Linked DNA regions of Homo sapiens. The protein of the gene in region 2 purifies or fractionates together with the protein of the main gene of each other region. This does not show direct contact. Each region holds a gene or a part of one and is shown on either strand. Other genes may lie near its edges.

The links. Proteins that work in one complex are often made in the same cells at the same time.
Region 1: the proteins of MTMR1 (region 2) and EAPP purify together in Homo sapiens (affinity purification with mass spectrometry, with the first as the bait; one large-scale study listed by BioGRID). This does not show direct contact.

Annotation. Positions count from the first base shown.
Region 1 is NC_000014.9:34,526,202-34,529,701, reverse strand, and holds part of EAPP (E2F-associated phosphoprotein), read left to right. Parts: intron 1-226; coding exon 227-344; intron 345-3,500. UniProt on the Homo sapiens protein: May play an important role in the fine-tuning of both major E2F1 activities, the regulation of the cell-cycle and the induction of apoptosis. Promotes S-phase entry, and inhibits p14(ARP) expression.
Region 2 is NC_000023.11:150,724,396-150,727,895, reverse strand, and holds part of MTMR1 (phosphatidylinositol-3-phosphate phosphatase MTMR1), read right to left. Parts: intron 682-3,500; coding exon 587-681; intron 213-586; coding exon 105-212; intron 1-104. UniProt on the Homo sapiens protein: Lipid phosphatase that specifically dephosphorylates the D-3 position of phosphatidylinositol 3-phosphate, generating phosphatidylinositol. Could also dephosphorylate phosphatidylinositol 3,5-bisphosphate to produce phosphatidylinositol 5-phosphate.

The DNA of each region.
Region 1 (3,500 bases), on a different chromosome or scaffold from region 2:
CGCCATGTTGTCCAGGCTGGTCTCGATCTCCTGACGTCAGGTGATCCACCCACCTTGGCCTCCCAAAGTGCTAGGATTACAGGTGTGAGCCACTGCGCCCGTCCCTTTTTTAACTTTTTAGGGAAAATATAAATAAATGTGTAGCTTGGGAAATGAGACTCTTCATTTAAAGAAGTGTGAACTTGACACATGATTCTTAGCCATATCCTAATATTTTCAAAATTAGTACAGGTGACCAAGAAAAAAAAGAAGAAACAACACAAGATTCCAACAAATGACGAATTACTGTATGATCCTGAAAAAGATAACAGAGATCAGGCCTGGGTTGATGCACAGAGAAGGGGGTAAGAACTTAAAGTTAATATTTAGAATCTTTAGAAAAAAAGATTGAAAGATGATTTTTACTACATTCACATTTTGAATATATGTGTATATGTTTACACAAACACACACACACAAACAAAAAAGTTAGAGGAAAAAACTGCTCAGTAGTTTATTTTGAAAATAACCAGCAAATTTTAGTGAGACTTTTTTTTAAAATTTTTTAAATTTTTATTATTATTTTTGAGACAGAGTCTTGCACTGTCGCCTGGGCTGGAGTGCAGTGGCGCGATCTTGGCTCACTGCAACCTCCGCCTCCTGCGTTCAAGAGATTCTCCTGCCTCAGCTTCCCGAGTAGTTGGGATTACAGGCGCCTGCCACCACACACAGCTAATTTTTTGTATTTTTAGTAGAGACCGGGTTTCACCATGTTGGCCAGGCTGGTCTCGAACCCCTGACCTCGTGATTCACCTGTCTCGGCCTCCCAAAGTGCTGGGATTACAGGCTTGAGCCACTGCATCCAGCCCGACAATTGTTTTTTTGTTTTTTTTTAAACTTGTTGAATTTAGGCTGCGTTAGTCAATCTCTCCCTCAAGAAAAACTGACTTTTTTTTTCAGATGCTGTTTTAAATTACTTTGAGATTAAGAGTTTATGTGGATGGGCCAGGGTGGTGGCTTATACCTGTAATCCCAGCAACTTTGGGAGGCCGAGGCAGGTGGATCACCTGAGGTCGGGAGTTTGAGACCAGCCTGGCGAACATAGTGAAACTCTGTCTCTACTAATACAAAAATTAGTGGGGCCATAGTGGCGCACACCTGTAATTCCAGCTACTCAGGAGGCTGAGGCGGGAGAATTGCCCAAACCTGGGAGGTGGAGGTTGCAGTGAGCTGAGATCACGCCACTCCACTCCAGCCTGGACGACAGAATGAGACCCTATCTCAAAAAAAAAAAAAAAAAAAAAAAAGGGTTTTGTGGATGAAGAGTGGATTTAGCAAATTGTTCTTTTTAACTACTTACAAATTTGATTTTTAAAAATTGAGATGAGGCTGGGCATGATGGCTCACACCTGTAATCCCAGCACTTTGGGAGGCCAAGGCGGGCGGATCACTTGAAGTCAGGAGTTCAAGACCAGCCTGGCCAACATGGCGAAACCCCATCTCTACTAAAAATACAAAAATTACCTTGGCATGGTGGTGTGTGCCTGTAATCACAGCTACTCTGGAGGCACAAGAATCGCTTGATCCCAGGAGGTGGAGGTTGCAGTGAGCTGATATTGTACCACTGTACTCCAGCCTGGTCGACTGAATGAGACTGTCTCAAAAAAAAAAAAAAAATTGAGATGAGGCTACTCTAGGTACACTGCTTATGGAGTAGCCCTGCTCTGCAAGGAGCAGTTAAAAATTTTTTTTGAGATAAAATTCACATAACAAAAGTACCCACTTTAAAAGTGAACAATTTAGTGGCATTTAATACCATTCACAATGTTGCACAGCCACCACTTTTATGTAGTTTCAACCATTTTCATCATCCCAAAAGGAAACGCTGTACTGTTAGGTAGTTTCCCTACCCTTCCCCTCAGCCCCTTGGCAGCCACTGATCTGTGCACTGTCTCTGTGGATTTGCTTATTTTAGATATTTCTTATGAATGGGATATTATACAGTATGTGACCTTTTATATCTGGCTTCTTTCACTGGGCATAGTGCTTTTGAAGTTCATCTACATTTTAGCACATGTCAGTACTTCTCTACTTTTTATGACTGAATAGTATCCCATTGTATGTGTATACCACAATTTGTTTATCCTTTCATCCACTGAGGGATGGATGTTTGTGTTGTTTCCACACCCTCTGCCCCCACCTTTTTTTAAGAGATGCCTGGGCTGGAGTGCAGTGGTGCAGTTATAGCTCACAGTATCCTCAAACTTCTGGGCTCAAGCACTCCTCCTGGTTCAGCTTCCTGAGTAGCTGTGACTGTAGGCACACACCGCCTCCCGGGTTCAAGCACTCCTCCCACCTCAGCCTTCTGAGTAGCTGGGACTATAGGCACACACCACCTGGCTAATTAAAAAAATTTTTTTAATAGAGAGGTCTAGCTGTGTTGCCCAAGGTGATCTTGAACTCCTGGCCCCAGGTGATCCTCCTGTCTTCACCTCCTGTGCTGGCATTACAGGTGTGAGCCATTGTGCCAGGCCATTTTTTTTTTTTTTTTTTTGAGACGGAGTTTTGCTCTTGTTGCCCAGGCTGGAGTGCAAATGTGATCTTGGCTCACCGCAACCTCCTCCTCCCAGGTTCAAGCGATTCTTCTGTCTCAGCCTCCTGAGTAGCTGGGATTACAGGCATGTGCCACTGCACCTGGCTAATTTTGTATTTTTAGTAGAGATGGGGTTTCTCCATGTTGGTCAGGCTGGTCTCGAACTCCTGACCTCAGATGATCCACCTGCCTCGGCCTCCCAAAGTGTTGGGGTTACAGGCATGAGCCACCGCACCCGGTCATTTTTTTTTTAATTTAAAGACAGGGTCTTGCTGTGTTGCCCAGACTGTAGTGCACTGATGCTATCATACCTCAATGTAGCCCTGAACTCCTGGGCTCAAATGATCCCCCTGCCTCAGCCTCCTGAGTCCATGCTTGTTTTTTTTGTTTCTAATTTAATTTTTAATAGACACAAGGTCTTGCTATGTTGCCCAGGCTGATCTTAAACTCCTGGGCTCAAGCAATCCCCTCCTACCTTGGCCTCCTTAAGTGCTGGGATTAAAGGTGTGAGCCACCATGCCCGGTTTATGCTTGTTTATTTTTATTTTCATTTTTTTTTTTATTTTCTTATAGAGACAGGGTTTCACCATGTTGCCCAGGCTGGTCTCAAACTCCTAGGCTCAAGTGATCTGCCCACCTTGGCCTGGGATTACAGGTGTAATTCCAGCCTGGCTCTATGCTTGTTTTTGTTTTTGTTTTTTTGGGACAGAGTCTCGCTCTGTTGCCCAGGCTGGAGTGCAGTATCGCAATTTCGGCTCACTGTGACCTCCACCTCCTGGGTTCAAGCAGTTCTCTGCCTCAGCCTCCCAAGTAGCTGAGATTATAGGTACCCGCCACCATGCCTAGCTAATTTTTGTATTTTTAGTAGAGACGGGGTTTCACCATGTTAGCCAGGCTGGTCTTGAACTCCTGACCTTGTGATCCACCC
Region 2 (3,500 bases):
CAGTACAAATTATTCTACTGTCCAAAGACCATGAAGAGACTGAGGGAGAAAAAGTTCAGAGCTGATTGCCCTCTTTTAGTTTTCACTTGGCGTTTCTATTATACCTTGCACACTATCTCTATACCACAGGAATTGTCTCCATGGCTCTGTGCTCCAATCTTCTCCACTCTGCTGATCACTCCAAGGGGAACATCAAGGATAAAATGCGGGTCCTAGGTTCAAAAATTAAGATCAATGCCTATTAGTGTCAGTCAACAGTTTTCATATTTTAAGTCTTTGCTGGGTTACAAAACATGTTTGTTTACTTCGCATTTCCTCTTTGTCCCAGCTAAATTGAAGTCTGATTGACAGCATTCCTTGTGAAATATATATTGAGACAACAATGGAATTTCCCCTCCAGGTTTAAGCGGTACTTTAACAGCCTTTGTTTTCAAGATACAAACATCTGTTTGCAAATGTGTGCATCTCAAAATCCAACCTGTGGTTATCTCAGGGTAATGGGATTTCAGGGGACTTTTTACTTTCTTCTTTTAGTGTTCTTTTAAAAGTGTTTCTTTTAAAATAAAACACACTTTAAAAAACTCACCCTCTCGACATTTTTGAAGTACAGCTTAAAGTCCGTCACTGTCAGGGTTCCACTCACTGCTCCCATAAATGGGCAGATATACATGACATCTTTCACTGAAAGAAAAAGGCCAAAGTAGCAACTACTGCCATAGACTTGTGCTTCCATAAAACTTAACACGAGTTTTCCAAATATATATTTGTGATTCCAGTTTTCCAGGAATTTTGTATTTTATAGGATTATATCAATTATGACTTTCAATATAGAGAGATGCATAGTCTTCTAATAAATTTCAATTTTTTAAAACAAAATTCTGATTTGCTACTTAATGAGGTTTTAAGTAAAGGGCCTCATAAGAAGTTATATTCTGTCATTTTTCCTAGGTAGTTAACATTTTCCCTGGGTGATAAATTAATCATATTCAAAACATTAATTAAACTCTGAAAACCCTGGGCTACTGTTTCATGAATTACTGCTACTTAAAACTAATGAAAACTAAAGATTGTCTCCTAATGCATCTCCAAAGGAAACTCTTTTTACAGAAGACAAAACCTAGAACCACATCAATGAAATGGAAAAAGACTTATTTCAAATTCCTTATCCCCTTATCAGTTTTAATTTTTTGTCAATATCTATTAAGTGCGTGACATATTTAATTCCCATTAGTGTTAAGAAGCTCACTTCTATCACAAAGATACCACATCTTCATGTTTTCCCAAAGTGCCATTCCACTGGAATGACAAGAATATACATAGCTATATATGAGTCCAAGTGAGACAACAAAAGGCATTAACGTCATTGAACCAAATTCTCAGAATACTTCCATTGAACTTTTCTATACTCCTTATGTACTGAGAGCCTTCTATTGCTGGGATTCTGGGTATAATTGGAAGAAGTTCCTGTCCATGAGCAGCCCATGACCTGTGAGAGATACCACACAGAAAAATCGCCATTATACTAGAGCAGAGGTCCCCAACCTTTTCGGCACCAGGGACTGGTTTCATGGAAGACAACTGTTCCATGGACCAGGGCAGAGGTAGGGGGATGGTTTCAGGATGAAACTGTTTCACCTCAGATTATCAGGCATTAGACCCTCATAAGGAACATACAACCTAGATTCCTCACATGCGCAATTCACAACAGGGTTCACGCTCCTGTGAGAATCTAATGCCACCGCTGATCCGACAGGAGACGGAGCTCAGGCGATAATGCTCACTAGCCCGCTGCTCACCTCCTGCTGTGCAGCCCCGTTCCTAACAGGCCATGGACCAGTGCTGATCCACGGCCCATGGGTTGGGGATCCCTGCACTAGAGGTTGACAAAAGCTAAAATAACAATGTGGACACAAAGTATTACAATGGAAGTTCAGAAAAGGATCAACTTAACTCAATAGGAAAGTGGGTAGGGGGAGTAAGAGAAGGAAGGGAGGAAGGGCACAGTGATAAGTTGTTAGAGGTTAGTATGCCTGGATCAATGGGTGCAGTGAGGACAGTCGAATATGAGGCCAGAGAAGTTGGCAGGGAGTGGATTGGCAAGTGCTTCTGTAGGAGACTAAGGCATTATTATCATTATCCTTAAAAGATAACTGTTTAAACAAAAACAAAAACAATATATTGTGGGGTTTATAACATATGTAAAAGTAAAATGGATGACAACAACAGCATAAAGGGTAGGAGGGGACAAATGGGAGTATACTACTATAAGGTTCTTATCCTGTACATGAAGCAGCATACAATCATTTGAAGGTAGACATAAAGATGTAAAATAACTAGTTACATAACAAAACAAACAATTATAGCTAATATGCAATCACAGGACATAAAATAGAATTCTAAAAAGTAAAAACCCCATAGTCTCGACCCAAAAGCTCCTTCAGCTGATAAACAACTTTGATAAAGTTTCAGGATACAAAATCAGCATACAAAAATCACTAGCATTCCTATACACTAACAACAGCCAGGCCAACAGCCAAATCAGGAATGCAATCCCATTCACAATAGCCACAAAAAGAATAAAATACCTAGGAATATGGCTACCCAGGGAGGTGAAAGATCTGTACAATGAGAATTACAAAATACTGCTCGAAGAAATTAGAGATGACATAAACAAATGGAAACACATTCCATGCTCATGGATAGGAACAATCAATATCGTGAAAATGGCCATACTGCCCAAAGCAATTTATAGATTCAATGCCATTCCTATCAAACTACCAATGACATTCCCAGAACTAGAAAAAAACTATTTAAAAATTCATATGGAACCAAAAAGAATAGCCAAGGCAATCCTAAGCAAAAAGAACAAAGCTGGAGGCATCATGTTACCAGACTTCAAACTATACTACAGGCCCACAGTAACCAAAACAGCATGGTACTGGTACAAAAACAGACACACATAGACAAGTGGAACAGAATAGAGCGCCCAGAAATAAGGGTGCACACCTACAACCCTCTGATCTTCAACAAAAGCAAGCAATAGGGAAAGAATTCCTTATTCAACAAATGGTGCTGGGATAATTAGCTAGCTATATGCAGATGACTGAAACTGGATCCCTTCCTTACACCATATACAAAAATCAATTCAAGATGGATTAGAGACCTAAATGTATAACCCAAATCTGTAAAAACCCTGGAAGACAACCTAGGCAGTACCATTCTGGACATAGGAACTGGCAAAGATTTCATGATAAAGATGCCAAAAGCAATCACAATAAAAGCAAAAGTTGACAAATGGAATCTAATGAAACTAAAGAGCTTCCGCACAGCAAAAGAAACTATCAACAAAGTAAACAGCCTACAGAATGGGAGAAAATATTTGCAAACTATGCATCTGACAAAGGTCTAATATCCAGCATCTATAAGGAATTTAACAAATTTACAAGAAAAAACACAAACAACCCCATTAAAAAGTGGGCAAAGGACAAGAATAGATACTT